Homo sapiens: one gene and its partners. The protein of the gene in region 5 purifies or fractionates together with the protein of the main gene of each other region. This does not show direct contact. Each region holds a gene or a part of one and is shown on either strand. Other genes may lie near its edges.

Evidence for each region.
Region 1: the proteins of TM9SF4 (region 5) and SACM1L purify together in Homo sapiens (affinity purification with mass spectrometry; 2 studies listed by BioGRID and IntAct, with this or other methods). This does not show direct contact.
Region 2: the proteins of TM9SF4 (region 5) and ZC3H15 purify together in Homo sapiens (affinity purification with mass spectrometry; one large-scale study listed by BioGRID and IntAct). This does not show direct contact.
Region 3: the proteins of TM9SF4 (region 5) and OASL purify together in Homo sapiens (affinity purification with mass spectrometry; one large-scale study listed by BioGRID and IntAct). This does not show direct contact.
Region 4: the proteins of TM9SF4 (region 5) and RTN3 purify together in Homo sapiens (affinity purification with mass spectrometry, with the first as the bait; one large-scale study listed by BioGRID). This does not show direct contact.
Region 6: the proteins of TM9SF4 (region 5) and RNF170 purify together in Homo sapiens (affinity purification with mass spectrometry; one large-scale study listed by BioGRID and IntAct). This does not show direct contact.
Region 7: the proteins of TM9SF4 (region 5) and CALD1 purify together in Homo sapiens (affinity purification with mass spectrometry; one large-scale study listed by BioGRID and IntAct). This does not show direct contact.

Annotation. Positions count from the first base shown.
Region 1 is NC_000003.12:45,737,896-45,741,395, reverse strand, and holds part of SACM1L (phosphatidylinositol-3-phosphatase SAC1), read right to left. Parts: intron 2,819-3,500; coding exon 2,725-2,818; intron 2,616-2,724; coding exon 2,523-2,615; intron 1,810-2,522; coding exon 1,752-1,809; intron 1-1,751.
Region 2 is NC_000002.12:186,489,260-186,492,759, reverse strand, and holds part of ZC3H15 (zinc finger CCCH domain-containing protein 15), read right to left. Parts: intron 1-3,500. UniProt on the Homo sapiens protein: Protects DRG1 from proteolytic degradation. Stimulates DRG1 GTPase activity likely by increasing the affinity for the potassium ions.
Region 3 is NC_000012.12:121,029,247-121,032,746, forward strand, and holds part of OASL (2'-5'-oligoadenylate synthase-like protein), read right to left. Parts: intron 2,372-3,500; coding exon 2,196-2,371; intron 1-2,195.
Region 4 is NC_000011.10:63,684,500-63,687,999, reverse strand, and holds part of RTN3 (reticulon-3), read right to left. Parts: intron 1-3,500. UniProt on the Homo sapiens protein: May be involved in membrane trafficking in the early secretory pathway. Inhibits BACE1 activity and amyloid precursor protein processing. May induce caspase-8 cascade and apoptosis.
Region 5 is NC_000020.11:32,140,714-32,144,213, reverse strand, and holds part of TM9SF4 (transmembrane 9 superfamily member 4 isoform 1 precursor), read right to left. Parts: intron 2,718-3,500; coding exon 2,549-2,717; intron 2,449-2,548; coding exon 2,319-2,448; intron 1,233-2,318; coding exon 1,109-1,232; intron 1-1,108. UniProt on the Homo sapiens protein: Associates with proteins harboring glycine-rich transmembrane domains and ensures their efficient localization to the cell surface.
Region 6 is NC_000008.11:42,886,606-42,890,105, forward strand, and holds part of RNF170 (E3 ubiquitin-protein ligase RNF170), read right to left. Parts: intron 2,810-3,500; exon of another isoform or gene 2,698-2,809; intron 1,267-2,697; coding exon of another isoform or gene 1,260-1,266; coding exon 1,123-1,259; intron 1-1,122. UniProt on the Homo sapiens protein: E3 ubiquitin-protein ligase that plays an essential role in stimulus-induced inositol 1,4,5-trisphosphate receptor type 1 (ITPR1) ubiquitination and degradation via the endoplasmic reticulum-associated degradation (ERAD) pathway.
Region 7 is NC_000007.14:134,964,634-134,967,931, reverse strand, and holds part of CALD1 (caldesmon), read right to left. Parts: intron 2,627-3,298; coding exon 2,546-2,626; intron 1-2,545. UniProt on the Homo sapiens protein: Actin- and myosin-binding protein implicated in the regulation of actomyosin interactions in smooth muscle and nonmuscle cells (could act as a bridge between myosin and actin filaments).

The DNA of each region.
Region 1 (3,500 bases), on a different chromosome or scaffold from region 5:
ACACTGGGTATGTCAGGTACACCAAAGAGGTATACCACCTCTGAAAAATAACTCCCTATGTATTAATGAGGTTAAAAGAGGAAAGTGCTGGGAGAGAGGACCAGGAGTGCTGTGGAAATCCAGACAGAAGGTGAAGACTTCTGTGTGGGAGAGACACTCTGTGAGAGGGGAGCATATGAATGGTGCCCTGAGGATGGTGGAATTCAGACAGGCAGAGAGAGGTTGGCTCAACGAATTCAGGATAGAGGATGAAGGCTGGAAGGTGCCTCTTCTTTCAGAGTGACTAGGATTGCATCTCCAACGTCCAATACACCAAGTCTCAGACTCAAACCTCCAAATTACAGGACATTACTCAAAGGAGAATAAAGAATACATTCTTCTCACTTTAATCTTAAATGCTTTATTAACTCAGTAACATAGCAAAATATTAAGAGAAAAAAGAAAACCAGTAAAGACCTTGTCTCCTCAGGTTCTCAGGCAATTTTACTCTCAACCTTTAAAATGTAATGATAAGTAATATCTTAATCCATTAACATTTATTTGAGTTGGTTAAACTATACATCCATAAATGGAATACTTTGCAGCCATTAGCAATTAAGAACATGGGAAAACATACTGCTCAGTGAAAAAAAGCAGATAATGAAAATACGTATCTCACTTTTGAAAAAAAATCACAGACACTTATAAAGATTAAAACATCAAAATGTTAAGAGTGGTTAGCTTCTCTCTCAAAGGTATGATGATAAATAATATTTTCTCCTTTTCTGCCTACGTGTGCTTTCTATAATTACTATGTATTACTTTGGTAATGTGAAAGGAAAATAAAATCTCAGGACTCCAAATTTACTATGCCAAAGGAAAAAGTTAAACTTGGGAACTGAGTCTCACAAAACTACCCTCCTTTTGTTCCTAAGTAGACAGCTGCAAAGATAGTGGGCCACATATCCTCACAGATGGCCACCCTCACAAACTGTCACAAGCAAATTCCTTGTGGGCCCCAAAATCTTTACCCTAAAAGACAGTCCTGTTGAATCTCCCTCACCCTGACAATGTAAATTAACAGTTTATTTTCACAGGTATGGGACAAAGACAAGACTAGAAAATCATCCCTCCGCCCACCCCAAAACAAATGCAGATCTGACTTCTTTATCTACTCTATGTTTACTTTGTCTTACATAAAATGCAGATTTACTGAGCAGGAGATGAATGCATAATTGACTGTTCCTCTACCCCGTCCTTTCACATGTAACATGGATTCAGTGAGTGCTAATCAAAGCCTCACAAGAATGTGACCACTTATCTTACTACCTACCCTCCCCTTTTGTTTCCATTCCTCCTTCCTCTCCTGTACACTCTTTCCCCATTTAATACTGAAGTCCTTAAAACCCTCTTTGGAAAAAGCACAAGATACTGATCCTACTGTATCTTGTGTCTCTTTTTCCTGGGCAGGTCCTCAACCTTGGCAAATTAAGCCTCTAAACTGACTGAGACCTGTCTCAGACACTCATTGGTTTACAGTAATAAGAAAAACATGTTTTTAAAATCTGAGGTTAAAAAAAACGACAACCATCAAACTACTAGGTATGTTATTTTTCTTCCTGTCACATCTAATGACAATCTAATGTCACATCCACTTTACCCATTAAATTTAATAGGGAAACATCAAGTGTTCGGTGAACTCAAAAACTTAAGATGTTGTAAAAGAAAGGTCAACATTCTAACTAAGAAACAAATGTGTGGAGCAGACTTACCAGCCATAAGCAAACAGATAATGCACATTGAAAAGGCAACAACCATGATAATAGGCAACTGGAAAAGACAATAGAAAGAGATCATCATTTAAGAATGCTAATCAATGGCAGCAAAATCAGTTGTGCATGCATTGCTTGGGAAAAGAATAAAACTCATCTGTCAGCTAATACACAGCTAATATCTTTTGTCAACAAAACATTATTATTTATGGGTTCAATCACAACTGCCCTAGACTTTAGATGGGGGATGTGGTAAGATCGGAAGAAGCATGCTTTTGCTCCAAGCCAAAGGGTGCTAAATGGAAGGAGGATGCCCAGATGAGGACCTAGAACACTAGGCCTCCCTTCCATTCCAGAGCACTTGACACACTGGAAAGAAAATCCAGAGCGGCTCTTGCAGGGTCTGGTGAACAGAGGAGTCAAAAAGGAGAGAAGCATCAAAAATAAACTTTGCCTTCCATGTAACACGTTTGTCTCTGGCAATTCCCTCAATGTAAGAGAATTGAAGTTTTCCTGAAATGAGAAAGCTTCCACATTCCCTTTGCTTATGTTACTTCACATGAAAAGGATGTGTGAGAGTCTGAGGAAAAGAAAACAAATGCTCCACAGTTACTGTACTCCTCAGCCTGACCTCTTTGGAAAACTTAAGTATTTATATTTCATGTAATGAAATATAAAACCACATATAACGTTTTAAATTGAGACTGAAACCATCTATACCTTCAGACACAATGCTTTTAAAAACTTGAAAAATACAAAATGGTTTCTTACAGCCAGGAATTTCCAGTCCCTTGGAACACTTAAAGGACTATGAGATTCTAATTCATCCACTGAATAGTTTCCAAGAAATAAGTCTATGGAATCCTAGAACAGAAAGGAAGAAATTCGTAAACTCAGTGTGAGATAACATTAGTGATGAACAATGCAAAGATACAACCACGTAATGCCAGGAAAGCATCAAATACAAACTTACTTGTCTAAATCCATCGGAAAAGTTGTTCTTATAATATCGTATCATTGAGTTCCAGCCATCCATTATAAGTCCCAAATGAGTTCTCTTTCCAGTTCTGGTTAAAGAGGTTAAATTTTAAGTTACAGGTTTGTACACTGAATTCTCACACTGTTTTATGGCCAATAAGCATAAGGTATAGAAATAAGTGAGTGACAGATTTTAAAAACTATCCCTGAAAATACAGATACTTCACAAAAGAAATCACTTGTAGGTCCAAGAAATACCTATTTTCTTTCTAAAATATTACCAAAGGAGGCACAAAGAAACACACTAATTCCAGTTGCAAAGACAAGAAATATGAAGAGAAATACATAGCCCAGGTTAAGTGGTAGGACACAGCAAAGCAAACAGACTAGAAATCTTATTCTGCTCCCAGGGAACCCACATAGCAGAAAAAGAGCCACTGCATGCATAATACATTCAAAATGTTCTCATTAATGTCCTCATTACTCAGTGCAGTCTTTGAAAGCAGCATCAGCATCACCTGGGTGCTTTTTAGAGCACATCTCAAGACTGGTGCTTCAGGTACACGGTAAGGTCTGAGGAGCACTGTGGAGCGGTGGCTCTCAACCCTCCCCAAGCATCAGAATCTCCCAGGGTGGCTAAGAACACACCAGTACCCGGGCCTCACTTCCCAGAAATCCTGACTCCACAGGTCTCAAGTGAGGCCCAGATGCTGGAGTCTTGCTGTTGTTGCTGCTGCTGTCTGAAAGCTGCCCAGGTGATTTTTAAAAGCA
Region 2 (3,500 bases), on a different chromosome or scaffold from region 5:
AAAATACCACCACGTGGACAAGCTAGAAAAAGAAAACAATAGTACTGAAACAATTAGTATTTAAAAACATACAACATGACATAATGTTTACAGCAACCTCAAAATCAGTAAAAGATCTTTCAATAGTCTTAAGACAAAAAAGTACAGAGGGTTTTGCTTCTAAATGGTTATCTCTCATTGGGAAATATCTCTTTATTCATGACATCTATATCCATATACCAAAACTTTGCTTTCCTCTACTTAAATGCTTGTTTCATGATTTAACATCCCAACATGGTATTATACAAAATTCTACATGAATTTTCTACAGCCTATGTGTATGAAAAAAGGTAAGAAGCACAAACAAGCTGGATGTTTCTGCACTGAGCCTTTTACGGATGGCTTCCCTTGTTTCTATAAAGAAAGTTTAACACTCAATTCAATTTGAAGAAAGATGGTCAACATAATGTGATACATACAGATGAACACAGTGCAGCAACTAAGTATAAAATGCCATACTTTTCCTTTACAAAAAGTGAGCTCTCACGGGAGGGAGAGGAGGCTCTAGAAAAAAATATGATCAGGATTAAACAGCATCTACAGGTGCTCTGCCAGAGAAAATAAACTGCGGTTCAACCCATGCTCCATCTGTAACTACAGAGAAGAAACAATGAATAAATAAGGCCAAATAGCAAAGCAGATACTGCCAGATAGACTTAGGAAAGAAAAATGTCCCCTAAGGGGACCTGGCCAGTAAGAAAAGAAAGCACTCACAATGGCAGTTTCTGGTAAAGGTGTATAAACTCCCGATCCCAGAAGAAGAAAAAAAAAATCAGGTTTCATTACACTGCTCTGGCACATAAATAACCAGTTTAAAGAGATAATAAGTGAGTTGTGTTCACCTCTAAGTTAGAGCTCAGAAATTAACATTTTTCCACAGAGAAAGGGGACACTTATTTATCTAGTATTCACTAAACATAAACATAACCCCTGAATATATACTTTATTGAATCCTCTCAACAATTCTATGATACACAGAAACTCAGAAATGATAAATTCATTTGAAGTTAAGTCATTAATAAGGGGCTGGCTGTATAGTGCAAGCATTTAGAAGCATAAACTCTGGAGCCAGACTGCCCAAATTTTAATCCCAAACAGAGCTGGGTAAATTACCCTCTTTGCCACAGTTTCTTATTTGTAAAGTGAGTCTCACTTAGGGTTGTTGTGAAAGTTAAAAGATTTACCTCAGAGAGACAGTGGTGGACAGCAAGGACTCTAGAGGCAGACTTCCTGTGTTAGAATCCCTGGCACAGTTACTTGCCAGGTTAGTAAACTTGGGCAAGTTATTTAATATCTATGCCTGTTTTCAAAACTGCAAAAAGGGTAATAATACATATCCCACTGAGAGAATCAAAGGAGCTAGTATATTTATCACTTGTAGTTGGCTTGTCTCTCTTCTCTCCTTCTCCCCAAAACACTGAGAACCTTGTCTGGGCCAGTAAATGTTAACTATTAAGTGACAGATGATATTTGAACCTAGGTATATTTGACTCCAAGCAAATTCCTTCTACAGTTTTTAATAAACTACTTCCCAGAGAAACCTCATTAAGTTATTGGGCTGGTTGGTGCGCAATAACCTTTCTAAATATCACACTGCAGATCTGAGATACCAATAGCACCTCTTGAAAACAGAATGATTTGCAATTTGGAGAAGTTCAAAAAGGCTTCTTCCTGAGTTTAGGACAGAGCCCTACCTAAAGATTAACCTGAATTACAAGGTAGAAAAAAAGGAGGTTACAGTCAACCCCAAACCACAGTTAAAATAAAACTAGGAGAATAATGGTCCTCATTGGATTAATAAGGTCCCAAAAGTTAACATGATAGTAAAGGAACTGCGTGTTTATGTGTGTTTCAGAAGACAACTTGGGACATGAATACAGAGGAGTCTCGAAAGAAAAGGATGACTTCCTGAGGCTCCAAGAGCCTTAACACTCAGTAAATTCCAGGCTTCACTTAAAACTTCCCTCCCATCCGTACGTAATCCCATTCCTTTTACGGGCCAGCCTCCACTGCTTAAATAAGATGTTTGGAAAAAGGGAAGCAGCGGAAGGGCAGGTCAACACTGAATAGTGCTCCAAGATAATGGAGTCTACCCTCTTGGGACATTCGGGTAGGCAGAAGCTGTCACGGTTTTCCCTCATTAGTTTTCTCCCAAATGCACTAATGTATTCTTGTTGTCCATCCATGCAATATATATTATGCAACTGGTTAATCCAGCTTCAAGTAATCAACATTTGATTTTGGCTATTGGTAGCTGTTCTACACTGGCAACCAATTTCTCTTGCTCCATCTTTCACGACACCTGGATCCTGTCTCTATAGGTCCCTATTACTATTTCCTTGCTGATACAAGTTCTTAGCTGGGTATCTTTTATTTGCTTGCCCTAAGTCCAAGATTATTTCCTTCTTTCCATATTCAAACTTTCTATTGCTCAATACTGACTCCATTTGTCACTAAATTTTAGTTGTAAGAAAGCAAATGGTATATGCCATTTCAGACTAATGTGTTAATTTCTAACAGAACCATAATCCTGTTTGACATATTCATTTCGGAAAGTATTAATACAAATGAATTCATAAAGTTTTGGGGCATTTGAAGAGGCAAATAAAAAAAATGGAGGCAATATTAAAAAATGGAGGCAATATTAAAAAATGGGCAGGAACTAAGCACTGTATAGACTGTGCAGATCAGTCTGATGTCCCCTAGTTTTTATTTATAATACACTATCAAAATAGGCAATAACAATAGCTGCCATTTACTGAATATATACACCATATGGCAGGCACTTTACATGTATTATCTCATTTAACTCACGGGAACTAGCTGCATTTTGCAGATGAGAATTGCATTCCAGCTAGATTTTGTAACTTGTCTAAAACTATAGAGCTAGTAATTTGAAACATGGGACTCAAACCCAGGTCTCTGACTCCAAAGCTAGTGTTCCTTTCATTAATTTATGCTATCTGATGTCTCTTTTACTTCCTTAGAGTTCCCAAAACCTGCATGTTGATTTTTCCACAGTGAAGGTCCATAGAGGTGGCAGCAGAACAGGTACAGAAGAGGAAAGAGGTAGGTAGGACAACCATTATTTTCAAGTCTATTGAAACGTGCTGCTTAAAAATACATGTTTTAGTTAACTATTAATTTTGAGCAATTTAGAATTTCAGGTCATACAGCTATAAAACCTCCCAAAGTTAACCAGATTCTGAAATAAGTATCAGTCTTTATATGTCAAAATAGACTATAAAAAAGTAGTATTTCCCCCTCCAAAATTATAACAGTCACAGAGATCAATTATCTTCTTGGAATAGTCACTGAGACGTGCTAGGCTTTTAGGGAAGTTTAAAAAAAAAGTTGCCTATATAATGAAGCAGACTATATCATTTCCTAACCAGGCTGAATAACAGAATAGTCTCTATAAATCTAATTTCACAAATGCTGTAACTTAACACTACAATTCA
Region 3 (3,500 bases), on a different chromosome or scaffold from region 5:
TAACACTTTGGCCTTGAAACAAACACAGAATCATCTTGTATAATTCTCATCTCCCAAATAAATGAAACCTTGGGCCTTTCCTATAGGTCACTGACTTACTAACAAAAAAACTTTATCCTTGACCTTAGAAATTCAATTTTGAATTAAAATGTATTTATAAGGCTGGGCTCAGTGGCTCACGCCTGTAATCCCAGCACTTTGGGAGGCCAAGGCAGGTGGATCACAAGGTCAGGAGATCGAGACCATCCTGGCTAACACGGTGAAACCCCGTCTCTACTAAAAATATAAAAAATTAGCTGTGCATGGTGGCGGGCACCTGTAGTCCCAGCTACTCGGGAGGTTGAGGCAGGAGAATGGCATGAACCCGGGAGGCGGAGCTTGCAGTGAGCTGAGATTGCGCCACTGCATTCCAGCCTGGGCGACAGAGCAAGACTCTGTCTCAAAAAAAAAAAAATTATAAGTTAATTAATTTGTTTTGTAACTTTTTGCAAATTCATCCTTAACACTCAATTTTGTAAACCATAACTAATAACATTATAATTTTGTTAGAAATTTAAACTCATGGTAATATAACTTATTTTCTTCAATATTAGTGAAATGTTACATTCTTAAAACTTAGATGATATATAAAATGTAGGATGCCTGTAATCTGTAAGATGTAAGCCTTAGTGAATAGATAAAAAAAATACCCAGCTCAACTTACTTCACCTCCGGGGCTCAAGTGATCCTTCCTCCTCAGCCTCCTGAGCAGCTGAGACTACAGGAACCCATCACCACCCCCAGCTAATTTTTGTATTTTTGTATTTTTTGTAGAGACGGGGTTTCACTATGTTGCTCAGGCTGGTCTTGAACCCTTGGGCTCAAGTGATCCTCCTACCTCAGCCTCCTAAAGTGCTGAAATTACAGGCGTGAGCTACCACATTTGGCCGGTAATTGTTTTTTCTTTAAATCCCTGTTATATTTTATTTTATTTTTTGAGACAGAGTCTTGCTCTCTTGCCCAGGCTGGAGTACAGTGGCGCGATCTCGGCTCACTGCAAGCTCCGCCTCCTGGGTTCACACCATTCTCCTGCCTCAGCCTCCCGAGTAGCTGGGACTACAGGCGCCCGCCACCACGCCTGGCTATTTTTTTGTATTTTTAGTAGAGATGGGGTTTCACTGTGTTAGCCAGGATGGTCTCGATCTCCTGATCTCATGATCTGCCCACCTCGGCCTCCCAAAATGCTGGGATTACAGGCGTGAGCCATCATGCCCAGCCTATTTTATTTTTATTGGATCAAATCTTTCCTTCTGCTGTCTGATTCCCTTGTAACTTCTCTGCAAGTTCTATATAATAAATGATTTTTGTCTCTGAGTTCTGTTTTGCAGTTGGAGTTTCCGTTATCTCGGAGGAAGATTTTGTTTCCAAAACTGACTGAGCTGCTGCCTGAGAAATGTCCCTGAGGGCTGTTTACACTCACACATGCCCTCTTTTCGACTCCTGGGGTGGAATTAAAGAAATCCTTCCCCTTGTTAGTCCTTAACCTGCTGTGACGAATGGCCACAGTACCCGGCGAAGCTGACATCTGCCAGGCCTAGACTGTAATTGAAGGGTAACAAGAACATGTGGGGTGGGTGTGGTGGCTCGTGCCTGTAATCCCAGCACTTTGGGAGGCCAAGGTGGGAGGATCGCTTGAGACCACTTCGAAACCAGGCTGGTCAACATAGTGAGACCCTGTCTCTACAAAAGAAAAATAAAAAAAATTAGCTGGGCATGGTTGTGCATGCCTGTAGTCCCAGTTACTTAGGAGGCTAAGGTGGGAGGATCACTTGAGCCAGGGAGGTCTTGATCCAGGGAGGTGGAGGCTACAGTGAGTGGTGATTGCACCACCGCACTACAGCCTGGGCAACAAAGCAAGATCCTGTCTCAAAAAAAAATAATAAAATAAAATAAAAATAACTAGTTTACTGAAATACTGTAGAGCACCTATTTTTCTCCTTCCTTCTCTGTTTCTTTCTCCTCTTCCTCCTCCTCTCCTCCTTTTCCACCTTCTTCACTGACGGTTTCACTTTACATTTCAAAAGACTAGCATTCTCTCCCTCTCTACCTGCTTCCATTTCCCCTGGCTGCAGCTTCCTGAGATGAAAATCAGGCCCTGCCTTTCCTCCTCACCCTCTTCCCTCTCCTTGCCCCTGCCATCCTGGCAGCCCCCTCACCTGCTGGTACCAGTGTTTCACCAGGCGCAGGAGGCTCTTCAGCTTAGTTGGCCGATGTTTCACGAAATTTCTCTGCAGCTCGCTGAAGGATGGGCAGAAATTTCCAGGACCACCGCAGGCCTTGATCAGGCTCACATAGACCTCAGGGGGTGGCTGGGAGTTGGGAAGAGAAGGCCCTGAGGAGTGAAGGAGCAAAGGAAGAGATTGGGGATTGAGGAAGCCAGAGGGTGGTAAGTAGTATTTTGGGGAGAGCCTGCCTTTACATTGGAAGTATCCCTCCAGGGACACTTGAGACCTCATATCTTCAGAAACCAAAGGTTTGCCTTGTCTAATTGTCCTTTTTGTGAAATTCTTACTCTGGAGAACCAACATTGGGCTTTCCATGCATCAGACCCCTCCCTGGATGTCCTCAATGTCCCTCATTTTCTTTAATATCTGTTTTGTATCTCTTTCAATACTCATAGGGAGGCCGGGTGTGGTGGCTTAAGCCTGTAATCCCAGCACTTTGGGAGGCCGAGGTGGGCGGATCACCTGAGGTTAGGAGTTTGAAATCAGCCTGGCCAACATGGTGAAATCCTATCTCTACTAAAAATAGAAAAATTAGCCAGGCATGGCATGGTGGCGGGCTGTAATCCCAGCTACTCGGGAGGCTGAGGCTGGAGAATCACTTGAACCCTGGAGGTGGAGGTTGCAGTGAGCCGAGATCACGGCACTGCACTCCAGCCTGGGCGACAGAGCGAGACTCCGTCTCAAAAAATATATATATATATAAACTCATAGGGAGAACCAGGAACCAGTTCCATGGTACACATCACTGAGACATCCCAGCACTCTCTTCCTTGCTAAAATCAGATCCTGTCTCTTATACCTTCTCCAAAGAGCAACTCCACGCAGCCAGCCACTACAGCTGATAGGAGTTAGCACATGAGATGAAACCTCTAGGATCTGGGCTTGCAGCATGTAGGTTTTACTTCAAACACCTAGGACTCTGCCCGAGGACAAACAACAGGGGCCAGTGAGTTAGTGCTCCCAAAGCAGCCCCCAACCAGTGACGGCTGGGAAGCTGGTGAGTAAGCACGCCAGCGTCCCACTTGGGATCCCGAAGAGGTTCGCTCCATAATGGGACTGTGAGTTCTCCCAGGACATGAAGCTCAGGGTGGTGACTTGCCCATGGACGCACGTTGTATTGAATTCTTGCCTTTCCCATCTCAGTTCCATACTTCCCTACCGGTGTTTCCTGGGAGGAATACCCAAATAAACTGCGTATCCTCACATCCATGTCTTAGGATCTGCTTCTATAAAATG
Region 4 (3,500 bases), on a different chromosome or scaffold from region 5:
TACCTCTTTAACAGACCACCTCAGTGGAAGCGGGTGGCAGCTTTATGACATTAATGTGAAGGGCCACAAACTGAAACAACTGACTCACATGTGGAAAGGGAAAAAAGGCATAACAATAGTCTTTGATTGTGAGGAAGACAGATTTCTCATTTGTACTTGAACTGCTATGTGGTATCTATTAATATGTGCAAGTAGTTTGTAACCTACAAATGGATGTCAAACATTAGGTATTGTTATTTAATAAAGGTCAGGATTTAAGGGTACAAAGCAAATGTGTCTAGGTCACATTGTTGATCTATATTTCATTTCTTCACATTAATGGTACAGTTATTTACTACAGGCAAGACACTGTGTTAAGCCCTATAAATGTGTTCACTTTTTTTTTTTTTTTAGATGGAGTCTCACCCTGTTGCTCAGGCTGGAGTGCAATGGCGCTATCTTGGCTCACTGCAACCTCCACCTCCTGGGTTCAAGTGATTCTCCTGCCTCAGCCTCCTGAGTAGCTGGGATTACAGGATTACACCCAGCTAATTTTTTGTATCTTTAATAGAGGCAGGGTTTCACCATGTTGGCCAGGCTGGTCTCGAACTCTTGACCTCAGATGATCCACCCGCCTTGGCCTCCCAAAGTGCTGTGATTACAGGCGTGGGCCACCGTGCCCAGCCAAATTGTGTTTAATTTTCATACCAACTCCAAGATAGATACTATTATCCCAATTTTCAAGTTAAGGAAACTGAGGCTCAGGACTTGCACAAGATCACATAATTATTAAGAGACAGGGCCAGGATTGAAATCTAGGCATTCCTGGAGCTCAAGTCTGTGTTTTAACACATTACACTGCCACTGATAATCTGACACGAATGTAACACTCAGATGATGTCAGTGTTGGACGGGGGCCACATTCCTTTTTATTTAAGGGTTAACTCAAAACACAAATTACATATTCACATTTGATTAATATGGTAGAACAAAGTGTGAAAATGAAGCCATAAAAAGTACACAGAACAACTAAGTTTCATGAGTGAGGAAAGAAATATTTAAAGCAAAACCTTTTTCAAAAAATTGCCCAAGCTGTTTTTGCTTTGAGCTAATTTCCATGAACAAACATATAAAATGTAGTTTTATTTTGGCATCATGATTTTCTTTTTTCCTTTTCTTTTCTTTTTTTTAAGACAAGTTCTGGCTCAGTCACCCAGGCTGGAGTGCAATGGCACAATCTCAGCTCACTGCAACCTCTGCCCCCAGCTCAAGCCATCCTCCTACCTCAGTCTCCTAAGTGGCTGGGACCACAGGCGCACATCACCATGCTCAGCTAATTCTTGCTTTTTTGTCTTTTTGTAGAGATGGGGTTTCACCACTATTGTCCAGGCTGGTCTCAAACTCGTGAGCTCAAGCAAGCCACCCACCTCAGCCTCCCAAAGTGCTGGGATTACAGGTGTGAGCCACCAGACTCAGCCAACTTTCATAACAACAATAAAAAGCAGTCTCTAGCAAGTATAGAATTTGTTCTTTTTTTTTTTTTTTTTTTTGAGACGGAGTCTCGCTCTGTCCCCCAGGCCGGAGTGCAGTGGTGCAATCTAGGCTCACTGCAAGCTCCGCCTCCTGGGTTCACGCCATTCTCCTGCCTCAGCCTCCCGAGTAGCTGGGACTACAGGCGCCCCGCCACCACGCCCGGCTAATTTTTTGTATTTTTAGTAGAGACAGGGTTTCACCATGTTAGCCAGGATGATCTCGATCTCCTGACCTCGTGATCCGCCTGCCTCGGCCTCCCAAAGTGCTAGGATTACAGGCGTGAGCCACCGTGCCCGGCCAAGTTACAGAATTTCAACATCGTGTCATCAGTAAACTATTAAAGTACTTTTAAAGTTCAGATGATAGACGTGTCTCTATACTTGAGGCCTAATAAAGGCAACTCTTGCTCTGAAATGAACACTGAATATTTCAGTCTCTTTTACCTCAACCTCAAATTTTTGCCTCTGATATCTTCAGTTTCCTTCAAAGGCAGAAATCTGGGAAGCCATCCTGACCCCTGATCCCCATCTCTAAGCATACTACATTGCTGGCTGCATTAGAACCTAAGGCACTAAAGTACAGAGTGCCATCACTCATTCTTGACCTGTATATAGTAACTAATACTTCTAAAATTAATTACTGGACAGGTCAGTCAAGACAAAATTGTTTTCTGTAGGACACCAACCAATCACTTATTTTTCTTTAACTAAAATCAAGACAAGTCTCCAAAACCAAGAGGAGCTTGGTGAAAGAACATGAAGCTGGAGGATGACAGCAATACGTACAGATTTTTTTTTTAAACAATTAAGGTAATTTTTTAGCATCTACATTTTAAATAAGTTAAATTTTGGAATAACAAACTTCATCTTATTTTCATGGTGCAAAAGCCTGAGACACTTCCTTTGTGACATGAAGAAAAACATCCAGCAAGGAGGAAAGGCTTCTGCAATAAAAATGATTACAACACATTGCAGTAACTTTTTTTTTTTTTTGAGATGGAGTCTTGCTGTGTCGCCTAGGCTGGAGTGCCATGGTGTGATCTCAGCTCACTGCAACTCCCGCCTCCTGGGTTCAAGTGATTTTCCTGTCTCAGCCTCCCGAGTAGCTGAGACTACAGGTGCCCGTCACTGTGCCCGGCTAATTTTTGTATTTTTTAGTAGAGACAGGGTTCCACCATGTTGTTCAGGCTGGTCTCTAACTCCTGACCTCAGGTGATCCAACCACCTCAGCCTCCCAAAGTGTTGGGATTACAGGAGTGAGCAAGCGTGCCTGGCCCCACACTGCAGTATCTTAAGGTAAACTTTTATGTTCAAGTAGTGACCCAACAAATGAGGATCTTGCATTGGGCCCACCAAAACTGTATTAGTGCTTTTTAGACAATATGAATGCACATTTGCAATGGATAAGCATTTAAGATAAGAGTCTCTTGGCTGGGCTCAGTGGCTCATGCCTGTAATCCCAACACCTTGGGAGGCCGAGGTGGGCGGATCACTTGAGGTCAGGAGTTCAAGACCAGCCTGGCCAACATGGCAAAACCCCATATCTAGTAAAAGTACAAAAATTATCTGGGCGTGGTGGTGCATGTCTGTAATCCCACCTACTCAGGAGGCTAAGGTGGGAGAATGGTTTGAGCCCAGGAGACAGAGGTTGCAGTGAGCCAAGATCACACCACTGCACTCCAGCCTGGGCTACAGAGCGAGACTCCAAAAAGAGTTTCTCTTTAGTTTATTTCTCAAGTGTGCCTTTCTAGCTCGTAAATTTGATAATTTATTCAACAAATACTTACCAAGTACTACTATATATCACTGTTTTAAGTGCTAATAGTGATACGTGTCTACAGCACATCTAAGAAATACAAATTCTGTAATAAAATTTTACTAAGAAATAATGGGTAAAGCTGGTCACAGTGGCTCCCATCTGTAATCCCAGCACTTTGGGAGGCCGAGGAGGGCAGATCACATGAGGCCAGGAGTTTGAGACCAGCCTGG
Region 5 (3,500 bases):
CAAGCACTTTGGGAGGCCAAGGCAGGCAGATCACGAGGTCCGGAGTTTGAGACCAGCCTGGCCAACATGGTGAAACCCCGTCTCTACTAAAAATACAAAAATTAGCCAGGTGCGGTAGTGGGCGCCTATAATCCTAGCTACTTAGGAGGCTGAGGCAGGAGAATTGCTTGAACCCAGGAGACGCAGGTTGCAGTGAGCGGAGATCGCGCCACTGCACTCCAGCCTGGGTGACAGAGCAAGACTCTGTCTTGGGGGGAAAAAAAAAGATAAAATGGTAAGAAAAGGAGACAGGGAGACTCTAAGCTTGAAGAGCCAGTGGGGGAGCAGGTGGCCTCAAAAGCGTCACACATGCAAACGTAGAACTGCGCTCGGGAAGCTCCCAGGGGAGATGTGCTATGGAGCTCTTGAAGGGCAGGATCTATGTTTGGGACTTCTGTGTCTAATTTTGTTTGAACACTAAGTTCCACAGTGGAAAAAAAAAAAAAGTCCAAATACCACCAACATGGTCAAAATCCTGGGCATGCTGCTTAATTAAAAAGCACACTGTGATGATCAAGGGCCAAGAGGTGAGGCAAAGCCGGACCAGCTCCTGTGAGGCCCATCAGGACTGTGCTGGACTCTCAAACTCCCGCACACCTGTTGACCCTGGGCAAATTTTAGTTTATGCCAATCACTCACACAGCGGGAGAGGAACGAAGAAACCTGCTGCCTACAGGCTTTGTCTGTACCCTGGCCCCTTGTTCTCAACCCAGGGTGAGCTGGCTGGTTCTTGTGAGGAGGCCCAACAAAGCCCCAACTTGCTGTTTGGTCTTGGCCAAGTCACTAGCTCCTTTTGAGCCTCTAGTTCTTCCTTTGTAATCATCACGTACCTCCTGGGGTTGCTGGGAAGGGGTAAACTAGTAAGGTGTCTAGCCCGTGACACTGCAGCTGTCAGCTGCCCCCACACCCCGTCTTCTCTAATGAGAATACCATGATCCTACCTTGGCTGGGCCCACACGCCACACCCGAGCCCATCGGCCAGCTCAGGAGGGAGAAGAGTGCGAAGACCCTGCGTGGAGAAGCCCAGGCCCATCCAGCCCTGCCCCTCCGGCCACACCTCCCCACTCACCCTCCAGCCTGATGCTCTGGGGAATCACCTCGAAGCGGACGACACGGTACGTGTGCTCCTGGTCCTCTTCCATGTCCTCCCGATGATAGTAAAGGATGAATGAGAGGTGGTTGTGCAGGTAGATCTGAAACACAGCAACAGAGAAAGCACAACAGAACATCACTTAGGGATACTCTCCAGGTATTAGGGCCCTTGCCTCACCCAGCATGCCTGGTTGTACCAACCTTCCTAAAACACTGTTCTCATCACTCCCCTACTCAGAAGCTCTTCAAGGGCTCCCTGCAGCTTATCAGACAAAAGCCCATTTCTCAAAGTCTGGCATTCAAGGCCTTCTATCATCTGACCCTGATACAACTGGGTGTAATCATCTAAGTCACATGAGTTCACCTAGACTCCCCTGTGCCCACCGCCCCATGAACCAGTCTCTACCCTGCAATCACTCCAACTAGAATGCCACCCCCAACTCCACTCAGCAAAAGCCCACCAACTTCTCATGGCCCACCTCCTCTGTGACAACCTGAGTGTAAAAGGAGCTCCCTCTGACCTCGCCTGCAATTAATGGCCAGTGAAAGGCAGCTGGGACTGGAGACTTAGAGCCTCCCACTGTCGGTTCTCTTCCCAGTTAGGACAGACGCCCTTTGGGGACAGGGGCTGCACCTCAAAACACATACTTTTGTAATTTATTCCCTAACTAATATCTTTCAGTTTAGAAAGAAAGATAAGAGAATCAGGGCTATAATCATCACATTATTAGCTGATTCTCCAGGGCTGTGCTGGGAAGGGCTCACACGAATGTGCTAATTTACCCCGCCACTGCTGCTGCATACATTTTACAGCTAAGGAACCACAGGCTCAGGGTCACTTAGACAACTAGTAACTGGGAGAGGAAGGATTCAAACCCAGGGAGCCTGCACGCTCTTGACCACTACTTAGCCCTCTCTCCTACATACTGATGAAGTTCCACGGTTTTTTTTTTTATGTTGTTTTAATCTTACAAAAATGGAACCTAACTTCCTAAGAATTGTGGCTTCACCTCCCTGTAGCACCTCCCAGGGACTTGCCCGGAGCACTCGGACCTCTGACAGACCATCATGCCCAGGGCACCTGGAGAAACTTGCTGTGGCCGAGCCCCACCTTTTCTGTGGCCCCAAGTGCTCAGGACTCGTGAGGTGTGGCTCCCGGTCCTGTGAGCACGCCAAAGACACTCTACCTTGTTGACATCTGTGAAGCCGAGCCGGTAGCCGTGTTCAAACTGCACATCTTTTTCCTTCTTCTTGTCATCGCTGTCTCGGTTGGAGTAGAGCTCCAGCCGGGTGGCCACAGGCAGGTTGTCAGCAATGCTGGAAAGTGAAGGCCCCACTCAGTCCCTCTCGACCGCCTCTCCCGTCAGTGTCCTCCCCTGTGTGAGCCTGAGGCAGCAAGGAGCACAGGGCGACTTACAGGTGGACGTAGTAGTCTTCTGTGATCCGCTCGGCCACGAGTCGGCTCTGCTCCACTGTCAGGGTCACTGGCTTGTTGGACTGGCTGCACAGAACTTCACACTTCTTCTCGCTGTTCATGAGAACCTGGAAAGGGGTGTTGACAATCCGGTCCCCTCTCAGCACCTCTCCTGCCGTAAGAGAGACAGATCAAGCTCAGAGCTTCAGCCCTGAGGTTGCTGAGGTCAGCAGAGTCACAGAGACACAGGACTGCGGGGCAAACATGGGCTTTCAAGGACTTCAGCAGTGCCTCAGCCTGGCAGCCAATGCCCTTCCCATTGCTTCACGCCCAACGGTCCCAGCTAACCTCGACCTGCCACCCTCCTCCTTTGGGCTCTAGTGCTACCAGACCCCTTAGCACTCAGCACTCATCAAGCATCACATCCTTTTTTTTTTTTTTTTTTTTTTTTTGAGATGGAGTCTCGCTCTGTCACCCAGGCTGGAGTGCAGTGGCACGATCTCAGCTCACTGTGAACTCTGCCTCCTGGGTTCAGGCCATTCTCCTGCCTCAGCCTCCCGAGTAGTTGGGACTACAGGTGCATGCCACCACGCCCGGCTAATTTTTTGTATTTTTAGTAGAGACGGGGTTTCACCCTGTTAGCCAGGATGGTCTCGATATCCTGACCTCATGATCTGCCCATCTCAGCCTCCCAAAGTGCTAGATTACAGGTGTGAGCCACCGCGCCCAGCCAAGCATCACATCCTTCTATGCCTCTGGGCCTCAGTCGCTTCCTTCTCCTAGAGTTCCCTGCCCCATGCTCCTGGCCTCCCCAGAAGCCCAGTTTCCATTTCACTCTCTCTGGGAAGCCCTCCCTAACCCCTTCAGGACAAGCCCATCACTCCCTCCCCTGACTGCCCTGTGTGAGGGCAGCATTATGCAGTGGAGGGATGACTCTGACTCTCGGCTGCCTGCC
Region 6 (3,500 bases), on a different chromosome or scaffold from region 5:
AGTAGAGACGAGGGTTTCACCATGTTGGCCAGGCTAGTCTCGAACTCCTGACCTCAGGTGATCCGCCTGCCTCAGCCTCCCAAGGTGCTGGGATTACCGGCGTGAGCCACCACATCCAGCCTAAATTAATTTTAGAATCAGGTGCAGTGGTGCATACCTGTAGTCCCAGCAACCTGGGAAGCTGGGATGGGAGGACTGCTTGAGTCCAGGAGTTCAAGTCCAACTGGGGCAATGTAGCGAGACCCTGTCTCTAAAATAAATAAATAGGCTGGGCATAGTGGCTCATGAGTGTAATCCCAGCACTTTGGGAGGCTGAGTCGGGTGGTTCACTTGAGGTCAGGAGTTTGAGACCAGCCTGGCCAACCTAGCGAAATCCTGTCTCTACAAAAAAATACAAAAAATTAGGGCCAGGTGCAGTGGCTCAAGCCTGTAATCCCAGCACTTTGGGAGGCTGACGCAGGTGGATCACCTCAGGTCAGGAGTTTGAGACCAGCCTGATCAACATGGAGAAACCCCATCTCTACTAAAAATATAAAATAAGCCGGGCATGGTGGCATGTGCCTGTAATCCCAGCTATTTGGGAGGCTGAGGCAGGAGAATCGCTTGAACCCCAGAGGCAGAGGTTGTGGTGAGCTGAGACAGTGCCATGGCACTCCAGCCTGGACGACACATTGAGACTCCGTCTCAAAAAATAAATAAATAAATAAATAAGTAAAAAAATTAATTCTAATATTAGTTCCCTTTTTACTATACAAGTCTTTTTTTGCCTCAATTTTTCCATTTAAAACTGAAAGTATTTTGCACTTATCATCTATATCACCTACAAGTTGATGGATTTAATTATGGAAATTAAAGTTTTTTAAATTGCCATACGCCAATAGAAAGTACTAATATTTTATTCAAAATGTGGATGATAAATTTAATTATTATTTGGTAAGACAGCTGATGACAGGAAATATATGTTAGCATTCAAAGCCCCGTGGAAAATAAAATACCTTAGTAAACATCTACAATCACTGAGATCTGTTACTTGCTGTTCATATTAAGTATTATACATTATTAGGGGTCAAAAAGTCAGCAGCCCTTGCAAATCTACTCAATTCTTTTGTCCTTAAATCTCACCTGAAAAGTGCATATACCAGGGTAGCAATCAAAGCGAAACTGACCACAACTGCCACAAGTACTTGGTCGCTTACTCCTTCTATAACTGAATCATCATCCAGTTTCAAACTTTGAACTTCACCTTGATATTTGGCCATTCCAGGTCTAAAATAAGAAGAAACAAGATGAGAGTTACAAATGACACAGTGAAAATGAAATATACTAATAAAAGCAATGTAAATATAACTGACTTCTAATATATTTGGTTTCTGATAGGCTGCAATTAAGTACAACTCCAGTGGGGACTGATGGAGTTCTTTAAAATTTGCCAGACACATTATTTTGTGGAGAACAAAATTCTATTTCTATTTTTTTTGGATGGAGTCTCTTGCTCTGTTGCCAGGCTGGAGTGCAGTGATGCGGATCTCAGCTCACTGCAACGTCCGCCTCCCGGGTTCAAGCAATTCCCCTCCCTCAGCCTCCCAAGTAGCTGGGACTACAGGCGCGCACCACTACGCCTGGCTAATTTTTTGTATTTTAGTAGAGACAGGGTTTCACCGTGTTAGCCAGGATGGTCTTGATCTCCTGACCTCGTGATCCACCTGCCTCGGCCTCCCAAAGTGCCGGGATTACAGGCATGAGCCACTGCACCCAGCCAAATTCTATTTCTTTTAAGGAAAACAATTACTATAATTTATCATTTATTTATGTATTTTTTAAAAATGTTTTTTCCTCTTCAAGCTTAACCCCTTTAAAAAAAAAAAGCCATTCTTGGGCCAGATGCAGTGGCTCACGCCTGTAATCCCAGCATTATGGGAGGCTGAGGCAGGCGGATCACCTGAGGTCAGAAGTTCGAGACCAGCCTGGTCAACATGGTGAAACCCCGTCTCTACTAAAAATACAAAATTTAGCCGGGTGACGTGTGCCTGTAATGTCAGCTACTCTGGAGGCTAAGGCAGGAGAATCGCTTGAACCTGGGAGGCAGAGGTTGTAGTGAGGCCCAGAGAGCGCCACTGTACTCCAGCCTGGGAGACAGAGCAAGACCCTGTCCCCCGCCCCCCAACCTCCCCACCCCCCAACCAAAAACAATAAATAAATAAAAGCCATTCTTATCCAACTGCTCTCTTCTTATTCCTGAATACCAAATAAGTTCTCTAAATAGATCAGATCCCTTTTCCCCCTCACAGCATGTGTATATCTTGTGGCATTTCCCATGTATTGATAGGAAAGGAAATATATTATAGTTTTCTGTAAGCATTCTCATATTCTCTAGCATATGCCTTGTACACAATAGGACCTAATAGATATCTGTTTAAATAAAAGTGACTTACCATACTTACAGTGTTGTAATTTGAAAAGTAAAAGACATTTAGGCTATAGAACATTTATAGCTATACTAAAACTACTTGAAATAATGAAAATTCTGGTGCTTGAAAAACTATTTGTCCACCTGAAACTAAGCTCAGCTTATGGTTCAGAATTCTTTGAACTGCTTGGAATATAGAATCACTCTGATGCTGCATTTCCTTATGAAGAGAAAAGGGAGGATAAGAAACTTTCCTTCCTACACTCTAAACTAGAGAAAAATGGTAGTACCTAATTCTATAGGTATGAGGGGAGATAGCCCAGCCACACTGGAGTCCAAATATCACAGGTAATTCACATTTTTTTCAGACAAAACAGGAAGTGTCAAAGTCTTATAAGACACCTAAAGAGAAATTAAGGAATATATATTCAATTAAATATATATGAATAATTAAAATAAAGTTCTGCATTTATGTAACTTATTGAGCTGAAAAAAGTTTTATTCAATATCATCACTAATCAGGTATTTTGAGTATAGACGTCTTAATACCTTTGAAAATCATCTGAACTGGCTGCAAGAAAATTACCACTCATGGAAGAAACCTACGCAAACAGATGAAAGGCAGCTTTCATCAGCTTTACACGGACTAATCGCCTGATATATGGAACTTTTAATGACTGGTTTCAAGTAACTATTACGAAGGTGCACACCAGGAAACTCACAGAAACAGCTCTAATTGCAGTATTTTCATTCAAAAGAACAGTTAAATGAGCTGCCAACTGAACTGAAGAGCCTCAAATAAGCTAGGGGTGGGCCACGGAGTCAATTTAGGTTTTTATTTCATCAGGTTTCCTCTCTTAAAATTAGAGGTGCTGTAGCTGTTTCAAAAGTCCTAAGGGCACTGAGAACTACTTGCATCTGCTCAAAGATAACCCAAATGTTATCCCCTGTGTCAAGATTTCCAACCTCTAATTACCTCACAGAGCTGTGAAGGTTAAAACAAATGAACAGAGGTGAAAGTGCTTTGTAAGTTAAGTCTATCAACAAATGCATTGTAATTATTCCTACTCACATTTTCCTCTATGCTATACAT
Region 7 (3,298 bases), on a different chromosome or scaffold from region 5:
CCTCCAGTGATCTGCCTGCCTCGGCCTCCCAAAGTGTTGGAATTACAGGTGTGAGCCACTGCGCCTGGCTGGATCTTATTTTATTTTAGCCTTCCTTCTGCTGATTTTTTTCACTTCCCTCTTCCTGTCTTTCTCCTTGATGTTCTCTTTTCCTGTCTTAACTTTTGGCCTTGCTTATAGCATTTAGAGTCAAGTAAGTTGCTTTGTTTTTTTCATTTTTAAGCCCCACTGTAAGAGCCAAAAATCTACAGTGTGTATTCCAGAACAGGCACATGCGACTGAATAGCTCAGTGAGGGCCACATCAATGTATGATGGTGAAGGAGGATGTTTATCTTTAGTTTTCTCCCATTTTTAATCTAGCAATCTCTATTTTCTCCCTCCTATTCTTACACCCCTACCCCACGAGACTTATCTGACCTATAGTCCTATTCTTACACCATTCTCTCCCCCTCAGCTAGTTGCTAAAAATTTTTGCCAAGCTATTAAGAAATCTTAAAGTGTTGTGAATTCCAATTTTCAAGGGTGTTCATTGTATTCATTTCTAAGGAATGACTGAGTAACAAGAAATGAGTTTGACAGTTTGGAGCAAAAGAGGTACCTAATCTGCTACCTCATAAACTCAGTTCTCGGTCTGGTGGTTATATTATTACTACTGTAGAAAGAAGTTAGTGGCACATGAAAACTCACACTGTCACCCTCCTACCTTGTACTGCCCTGGTGCTACATAACTCCAGGGAGTACCATTCATGTTTGTATGTGAGTGGTGTTCTCTGAGTCTGACCATTCCACATCATCTTTGTTCCACTTTCCAGAGCTCTGGCTAGGAGGAATGTTATCCAGAGAGACTCCGTTATACTGGTGATGATGGTCTATGGCCAGCTGACATCTGCTTTTCAGACAGGAACCTATATAAACACTGGGACTGCCATTCTGAGAAGTCAGATACCTCTCAGAGGTCTGAGAGGAGAGCCTTCTGCTGTCAATGTTCCTCCCACAGTGGTGTGTGGAGAATGTCTTCCTGGGAACCATTCCATGGGTTTGGGCTATTTACATTGCATGGCTGACAAACCTGCAATGCGCTAATAGCATAGGCTAGAGAGGTCATAAAAGCTTAGGTCAACAAGCTCATTCTTTGTTTAAAAAATAACAAAGAAAGTTCTTTTCTCCCCTGCCACCGAGAGAAAATTATACAAGGAATTGAATAACTATACATTTTCTCCTGAATATGCATCCTAAAAGAAAGTACCATGTATAATGGTTAAAAATGCAGGCTCGGATCAGGTGCTGGAGTATCAATGCAGGCTATGCTACTTATTCACTGTGTGACTTTGGGAAAGTTACTTCATCTCTCAATGCCTCATTTTTCTCAGCTGCAAAATGAGAATGATAAACTACTTACCTCACATGGTGACTGGAGGATCAAATGAAATAATGGAGGGTAAGAAGGTAGAATAGTGTCTGGCATATAGTGGGGTGCTCACTTGTAGCGCTAGTAGTTAGCAATGTGATAATTACCAGCAGGTACTTTTCATATGTTTAGCAATGACTTAGAAAGGCTAGTGGATTTTAATGGAATAAAAGCGCAATACGTAGCTAATAGTGAAGGTGGGGTAATATGTTTAGGTAGCTGCACCAGAACTAAGAGCATGAGAAAGTGGGAAAGGGAAGGTAATTCTCTCACTGCAGTGAATTGTAGTGATTCTCTAGTTGCCGTTGATGTGCTCTTTAGTCCTGAGTTTGCTTACGAAGTGCTTCTGTTTAAATCAACCCATAAGCAGCCTGTTCTAACCTTGCTTATTGTTGGTCTCCAGTTTCTCCCTTTTTAATTTTCTTTTTATTGAAGGAGAACACGAGGTCTATTACTTGAAATGGGGAAAGGCTACAGTTGGGAGTTGAATGAGCTCATTGTACCACAAAGGGTCCCATTTGCAGTGTAAGCATCATTTAGATGTTCTTCAGAGCCTCCTTTCTGAAGAATGACCATATCCTTTGACCAGAAGACTAAAAGTAAGAGGAACCCAATCATTCTTAATCATTCATTTTCACAGGGTGGTAAATGGTTGCCTTACTTTTGAATATTTTTTTTTTTTTTTTTGGCCATAGCAACCCTGAGTCTTAGGCTGCTGGCAGTGGCAATGTAATCTAAAATGGTTCCAGAAAGCAGTTTTGGAAACACTCAGGGAGACAGATGTTTTCCCCAAGTGATTTTTAAATGACTGTGGCACTAAGCTGGGACCTTGTAAGGAAACGTAGACCATGGTATCCCATACGGCCTTCTGCTGCCAATGTTCCTACCACTGTGGTGTATTGAGAATGTCCTACTGAGAACCATTCCATGGATTTGGGCCGTTTATGTTGTATGACTGACAAACTTGCAATGCGCTTTTCATTTCACTGTGTTATGTACTGGTCTTTTAGACACTGATGGGTGTGCAGGCAAAGATCTGTAGGTCAGTGATATTTCTCATCTGACTCCAGGACATTATACTACACCATACATCAGGAAAACAAACCTCTGAAATACTAGTCTTCCCAATAGATTACCTTAGTGGGGGAAGTGACCTTATCCACAGATTGCTTTTCCCAGAGGTTCCGCTTGCTGGATACGTCTCCTGGTCTCAAGTCCTGATAAAAAGGAAGCAGAAAAACATCGATAGGTGGCCATTTATATTTTCTAGCCAGCTCTAAATAAATGGCCACATCTATTGTTTATTTGAATCAGTTTGTTGTTTAATACACTTTACCCCAGTGATCTGAAATGGAATTGAAAGGACCATCAGCTGTTGTTTGATTTTTTTATTTTTTTATTTTTTTTGAGACAGAGTCTCACTCTGTAGCCCAAGCTGGAGTGTAGTGGCGTGATCTTGGCTCACTGCGACCTCCATCTACTGATTTCAAGTGATTCTCCTGTCTCAGCCTCTCGAGTAGCTGGGATTACAGGCGTGTGCCACCATGCCTGGCTAATTTTTTTGTATGTGTAGTAGAGATGGGGTTAGCTGTTGTTTGATTTTATATAGACCGTGACATGTCTTATGATATGAGAATGGGCTGGAACTATAGCCTCGGGGTCCTTGCCCTTTCCTAAGGACTTACTGTTTATTGATCAGTAAAAGTGAAACAGGAGCATGTTTAAAATAATGTAGCCTCATTTTAAATTTCTGCACTCTTACAAGTCAATAGATCATGGGTTATTTAAAAATGATTAATTTGGGGTTTGATAAGCATTTCCTGCCTCACAGATGAACTCAATTTGTACTCACCTCTTTCCCCCCAGCCCTTACTACTTTAGTGCACACC